2 linked regions of the Homo sapiens genome follow. The protein of the gene in region 2 purifies or fractionates together with the protein of the main gene of each other region. This does not show direct contact. Each region holds a gene or a part of one and is shown on either strand. Other genes may lie near its edges.

What was found. The genes of interacting proteins can lie anywhere in the genome.
Region 1: the proteins of FOXJ3 (region 2) and SERPINB7 purify together in Homo sapiens (affinity purification with mass spectrometry; one large-scale study listed by BioGRID and IntAct). This does not show direct contact.

The regions. Positions count from the first base shown.
Region 1 is NC_000018.10:63,802,561-63,806,053, reverse strand, and holds the end of SERPINB7 (serpin B7), read right to left. Parts: intron 1,818-3,493; coding exon 1,419-1,817; 3' UTR 684-1,418; downstream 1-683. UniProt on the Homo sapiens protein: Might function as an inhibitor of Lys-specific proteases. Might influence the maturation of megakaryocytes via its action as a serpin.
Region 2 is NC_000001.11:42,177,973-42,181,738, forward strand, and holds part of FOXJ3 (forkhead box protein J3), read right to left. Parts: intron 1,854-3,766; coding exon 1,738-1,853; 3' UTR 1-1,737.

The DNA of each region.
Region 1 (3,493 bases), on a different chromosome or scaffold from region 2:
GTCATGCTTTGAACGGTCATAGATTGGAATGGTGATCAGAAAAATCAATTCCTCTCTCAAAACATGCCACTGAAATTCACTCTCCATAAATGTCCTGAAAGCTGTAATAGTTCGGGTGCCACAGGTTAGTGGTTAAATTATTTTGGTCAAGAGATTTTCTACATATTTCAAGTCATGTCATATTTACTCATTTATATCATATTTTTAGATTCCACAATATTTGTTGAAAATTAGGTATCTGCCAGGTCTGGTATTAAGCACTGCAGAGACATGCAGTAGGCTATCATTGATTTATACAGTTCCTATTCAGGTAAAAGTGTTTTTTGATGAAAATATAATTCAATGGACTCATTGTTTACAAACTCATAAGTAAGTTCAGCATGATCTACTGATTCTCAATTTATTTTTCTTCTGTTTATAAAATTACAGATGGCTTATTATAAATATTCATATACACAAATCATTTCCCTCATGAATTTAAATACTACTGCTTAAAATTAGTTCATCAGTCTATATATCTGTATAAGCAATTTTATGTGTAATAAACGAGCCACATTGAATCAAATCAAACATATTATAAAAGAATTCTTGCTTGCTTGCTTGCTTGCTTGCTTTGCCTAGAAAACAAAGAAAGCCCTAGTTGTCCTACAATTGGTCAGAGGAAAACAATCACACTGTACAGGTATGTTGTATTTCTTTATTCTGATAAATAGAGAAAAAACTTATAAACTACACAGCATATGAGATATGATTCTGTAGATAACAACTGCCAACAGTTAAAAGATCTTTAATATTTGAAAAAACTATGTACATATTGTCTTATCAAAGAAAGACCAAAATTTGTCAATTGAAAGCATTAATGAAATATTTTGGTTGGTCCCTAATCCCAATTTCACATTTTTTACCATCTAGATTATACACTGATTTAAAATCAAACATATGAAGGTAAACTCTAAAATCTTCATAGGTCAACAAAGAAAATTTATCCTTCACACTTATTTCTAGAAAGCAGCAGGGCTTATTTCCTAGATTGCTTACAATGAAGCTAGAATATCTGCGATAACTGTAGAGTTTCAAAAAGGATCCCTAGGGCTACTTCTACGTTCTCCTTACCAGTTGAGCACTCTCCATAATTTCCAGACGGGTCATGGGGGAGAATGATAGAAATGAGCGTGGGAAGAAAGACAATGAAATTAGAAATGGGTGAGACACATGGTGGTAGAATGCTAAGAGCAGGGATCAGGACAATCAACCAGGTGTCTAGGAAGGGTCAAGTCACCAGTGTCATCTGCTGACCAATGTTAGGAAGAAATAAACTCAAAGGAAACACCACATTTTTCCAATTAAACTCAAATCTATTGACTTGTGGTGGTTCTTTGATGTTGTGGGGACTGCTATAACAGAAACCAATTGGATTTTCAAGGGCAAGAAACTTTGCCACTGAATAAGATGATGTCATCCTTCCTGATAACAAATAGGAATGGGTGGTCAGCTCTAAACAGCGTGGACTGAGGGAGTTGCTTTTCTACAATATTACTTCCTGTGGCAGCAGTAGCCTCGGTGCCCTCCTCAGTGACCTCTATGTAAGATTTGTGCATCATCCTTGATATATACAGACGACCCCCCGAAGCAATCCCAGAGAGATCTGCTTTGGATTCATCAAAGATATCTTTCAGCCCTAGGGCTCTCAAATATTGTTTCATTTCATAATTCTTCTCTATCTTGAACTGAGGAAAAAATACCTCAACATACTTAGAGGTCATTCGCCTTGGATTGGTCCATTCCATTAGATTCTGAAAGGTCAGTTTGTTTTCAATCTGTAAAAATAATTCAGAGATAATTTAGAATCATATGGTCAAGTGATAGATAAAACAATAGCTACAGAGATACATAGTTTTCTATAATTATCGCTTCCTGGATATTTGTGTTCAAGTACATGAATGTGTCTTGGGCAGTCTTGAAACAGAACATGAATAAAATGAATAGCTCAAGTACTTTTAAACAAATCCCATGTTTAATTTGCTCTACTATGAGAAGGCATGACTTATTTGCACCTTAGGGCAATTCCACTCTCTGCTCACCCATGAGCAGATACAGCCAACGTGGAGCAATAGACAGGTGAAGGAACCTGGGAATTTGAGACCATTAGAGGGAGAAAGGAGCCCAGTGGTCATTTAAATCAATATTTCCTAGCCATCTCCTCATCATGAAAGACAGATAAAATAATGTTTGCACAGCTTACTGGAGTAAACCAAAGGAACCCCACGTGGCCTGAGGCAAGGAGGCCAGAGCTCCAGCCTCAAAGGTTTGGGTGACCAATATCTCCCAGTGCAGTTACCCATACTGTCTGGGAAGCTTGAATTCAAATCAATTTCTTGTTCTCAACAGATGAGGCAACTGAAGTGCAGGAGGATGTAGCTGGATATGCCTGAATGCAAAGCAAGCAACCTTAGTTACACAGCTAGAAGAGTCCTTATCTCTCTCTCCAACAGCATCGCTGCCCACAAACAATTCACAAAGCCAATTCACCAGCTCTTGAATACTGAGAATTGATCATAAATTCTCAATTTAGAATAAGAAGATTTTTCATAAACATTGTTTAGAAATCTTACATAAGGACATTTCTTCCTAAATTCAGGCTCAACTTCAATCCTAAACAACTTTTTACTGATATTAAATTTAACTTGTATTCTTATCAAGGACCTAAATTTATACAATCAAATTTAGTCTAATTTGAATTTTTTGTTTTAGTTATCCAGTTTTGTGGTTAATCTGTAATATATTTTTACCCTGTTGGAATTTTTTTTTTCATTTAGTGCACTGAGATCCAACTTCCTCATCGTTATCTGGTTATGAAAGATTATGCAGGTATTTAAGATTGTATAGTATGTAGGTTTATAATAGTCAGATTCAAACATTATTAGGTAAATCTATTACTGAAAAGGAAAATTCAGACAGTAAGTGCAAGAATAAAACTATATTGTTAGCTTGCTTTATCTGGGCTACTTTTTCTGTTGCAGATTATTTCAAGTTAAACTAATTGCTGTATGCTAAAATCTGACTGTTATGAAGATTATCACGTGAATTATAGGTTTAATATGAGGACCAATATTTTATATGGTCATACTTTAGATTTAATAGTACCAATTTTATGACATTTCTCTTGCTTCTCATGTCAAAATAATTAAGATGAAAACGTAATGAAAGAAAGTTGTTGCTAAAATTCCGTAATCTTTGTCTATGCAGAAAGTGTCATTCCAAAGCTTTAAAGTCATGTTTTTAAATCATACTAATGCCCCTTGGATGGTAGGCATGTCTGTTTCTTTATATTCATTCCCCTGTCCTGTTATTCCACAGCAAATATTCATTATTTTCCAAGTCAAAACAAAACAAATACTTTTAAGTGTATGTAACTTTTCAGTATAGCTGACATACATATATGTGTGTGCACATACATACACACAAATATGCATATCTATACATATGTATCTAT
Region 2 (3,766 bases):
CTGACACTTTTTGGGGGGTCTAAAGAATCAATTCAAAATCTATTCATTAAAAAAAAACCCTCATTTCTTCTAGTTTTATCATAAAACTAAGATAATCAGTCCATGCAAACTGTGATATGATATGAAACAAAACAAACCACCACCACTAAAAAACCCGTAAGAGGGGCTGCATTTCAAAGAAAGGGACCAAATGTCATGCATACACAGACATACAAGACAACAGAAACAGCAGGCCACATAATATCTACATTAAACACTGAAGCAAATAAAACTGTAAGTGGCTCTATCCTCCTTTCAAGACAACCTAGATGAGTGGGGAAACCTGCTTTAGAAACCCTGCCCTGCTGTTGTTGCCCAAATGAAATCTGATTCAAATTCCAGAAAAATCCGATTTAACTAATAAGTCTGAATCAGCAAGAATGCCAAGACAGAGAAATCTATTCACATGGTAAAAGGAGTGATGATAGAGAATGACACAATGTCTCTCTGAGTGTCTTATCTGTAAATTCTTATCAAGAAAAGTAACGCTGGGCCAGGCGCAGTGGCTCATGTCTGTAATCCCAGCACTCTAGGAGGCTGAGGCAGGCAGACTGCCTGAGCTCAAGAGTTTGCAACCAGCCCAGGCAACATGGTGAAACCCCATCTCTACTAAAATACAAAAAATCAGCCAGGCATGGCGGTGTGCACCTGCACTCCCAGCTACTCGGGAGGCTGAGGCAGGAGAATTGCTTGAACCCGGGAGGCGGAGGTTGCAGTGAGCCGAGATCGTGCCACTGCACTCCAGCCTGGGCAACAGGGCAAGACTCCATCTCAAAAAAAGAAAAAAATAATAATAGTTCTGTGCTTTCAGACACATTTCTCCTTAATGAACCCGACAGGAGCTAAGCATTCACAGAAGGTAGCAATAAATATTAAAATGACACTTTTGAATAATAAATACATAGGTGAATGTGGAAGCACTGATGTGTTTAAAGAGCCAAGCAATGCCCAATTTCTTACCAATCAACAAATTTTAGAGCTATTATAATGCAGATTTAGAAAAGCAGACATAAATACTCTATGATCCCCCAAGCATCAAAACCAATTTGGTCAGTTCTTCATGCTGCTCAGGAGCAACATGCCCCTTCGGATTGTTGGAGTGTGTCAAATTCTGGTTTCCTTGACTTATTAGATAGAATTCATTACCCACATTTCTAAAAAAGATTAAATAAGGGGAACTGGGTTTTGGAAAAAATCTATTTCCTTTCAGTTTCCTACATCAGTTAAAAGCATCCTGCAGAAAATAGCCTAACAAGGAATAAAAACTGACAATAACTTTCAAGACATAATAATCCAATTAGAAAAAACTGAAGCCTTTCAGTAATTTTTGTACATATATTTACACATATGTATCTTTATATAAACTGCTTGCAGCAAAATAGGCTCCGTCTGAAAAATCAGTCTGGCACTTGTGGTTAACATCAAACTGACACAAATATGCAAAAAGCCGTCCAAATCACACAACAGTTAGGAGCTACATAGGGCAGCTGGCAGGGAGACAAACATGTAGTACTTGCTTGGGTCAGATAAAAGCAGTAAGTTATCCAGCTAAAATCCTTCTGATTGTCTTCAAAAGTAATTTTGATAACATTGGTAAAGTGATTAGCAAGTTTGTTTTCTCAACTGGATTCTCTTAAACCTTTCCCTTCACTGCACAGAAAGGTAACGTTAGGGTCTGGTGTCTTGCAGAAACAAGCCCTACACAATTGAATCCCAATCAAAGTCATCCTGGATGTCATCTGGAGGCAGGGAACGCCGCATCTGGAAGGCTTGGGAAGGCATCATGTGCTGCTGGTTCATGGCTCTGTGATGGCCTGGAAGGAAAGAGGCAATAATAGCAGCGACTTGGGTAGAGAAGAAAGTAAGAAATAAACTAACCCCTACTGTGTACTTCCTATATGCCAGGCACACATTATCTCACTAATTCAACCATAAGCCTTCAAAAAGTGGCTCTTATGATCCTTATTTTATAGGTAAGGGGATACGGTTTAAGAGGATGAGTAAATTACCCAAAGTCACACAACCAGTAGGGGACAAAGATAGGATCTGAGGTCAGTTCACTTGATCCACACTCCTTCCATTATACCAGGCTGCAGTAAGGAAGACACGAGAAAAGTGCCAATGTAGCCACTGCTCTTACAGTCTGTTTTGCTCCAATACGTTGTTTCAGTAACATGAATTGGCTCCCATGAGAATGGTAAACAGGATAATGATGGCAGTGCACCAATGACGTCATACTGAATTTTCCCCAGCAAGCTAATTTCTGTGCCACCAAGTAATGTCAAGTGAACACAGAGGACATCAACAAGGGAACACAGGAAACCAGAAGGAACCACAGCTGAGTACAGAATGCCCACCTTCCCATGCTCTTCTTGTACCAGTTTGGCCATGTGCTGTTTATGCTCCCCAATTTTGATTCATTGGGTCTGTGTCTCCACCGTATCTTGACAGACCCCCCCCTTCTAAACCAGCTGCTTTTTAAAAGTAGAGGTTGATATTTACTTGTAGAATTCTTTCTTTTATTACAAATTATACATATCCTTTTAACTGTTGTGGAAGTTTTACTGGATTTTTTTTTAGTACTCTGATTACAAAATTTCAAGTAGTCTGCTACTCATTTTTCTCATATGCCCTGAAATATTTTCTTGTACAATTATTTAATGCTAAGGTTTTCAGTATATCACAATATAGGTAAAATGCCTCCATTTAAAAAAAACTTATAAGTTCCTTAATGTGGGTCAGGCACTAATTTACATGATTCTCATTCAATCCTAACAACTCGAGGACACAGGTAGTTTTATTAGCCCCTTTTACAAACAGGGAAGCTGAGGTAGGAGGGTTAGGTAGCTTGCCTAATATCACACAGCCATTAAGTGGCAAAGCATGAAGATTCAAACACAAGCAATCTGGCTCCAGAGCCTTACCACCTTATGGTGCCACTTACAAATTAGTAGTAAGCACTCACAACAGGTTAACATTCCTTCCCCCTTCAGCAAAGGACATATCACTTGATCCCAACTCCTTCCTCACTGCTGTCTGCCACACAGTTCTTCAAGGTTTTAAATCCACCCCCAACCCCATTACCTTTATGTCTTTTCCTCAAATAGCCTAAGTAAAGGATTGTGTGGTATGTGAGAAAAACAACGGACTCTGAATCCAGACACTGGGGCTTGAGTCTTGATCTGGCCACTCACTAAACTGGGTGGCCTGGGCAAGGCATTTCTCCTTCAGAGCCTCCATTATCCTAAGTGATCTTTAAGATACTTTCCAGCTCTAACAATGTGCCGTATTCCGCTGGCTAAATGAATCCTGCATTCAAGAACCCAGCGGGAAAAGTGTATGAACCACTTAACACCTAAAATTTACCTTCTCTACAAGGTACTTCCCTGGAAACTATAGCTGGGGGAACTCCATAGGAATGAATGAAGCAGAATCTACAGGAGCTAATAAAGTAGGTTCCTAAAACCTGCTAAAGTCCTGTCAAACACCCTCAACTATGACCCCAGGACTTCTTAGAGAGGCAAGACAATAAATAACTAGAATAAGTAGAATCATTGCATCTTGGGCTAATAAGGACTTCAGGTCCTACAGTCCAAACTCCAACTGATGCTTGAATCCCTTTGCTAGCACAAGTGCCAAGTGGCTGTCCAGACATTGTCCCCTAGCCCCTCTTAACAGGGAGTTCACTCCTTGAGGCAGCCTCATTCACCATCGGGAAAGCTAACGC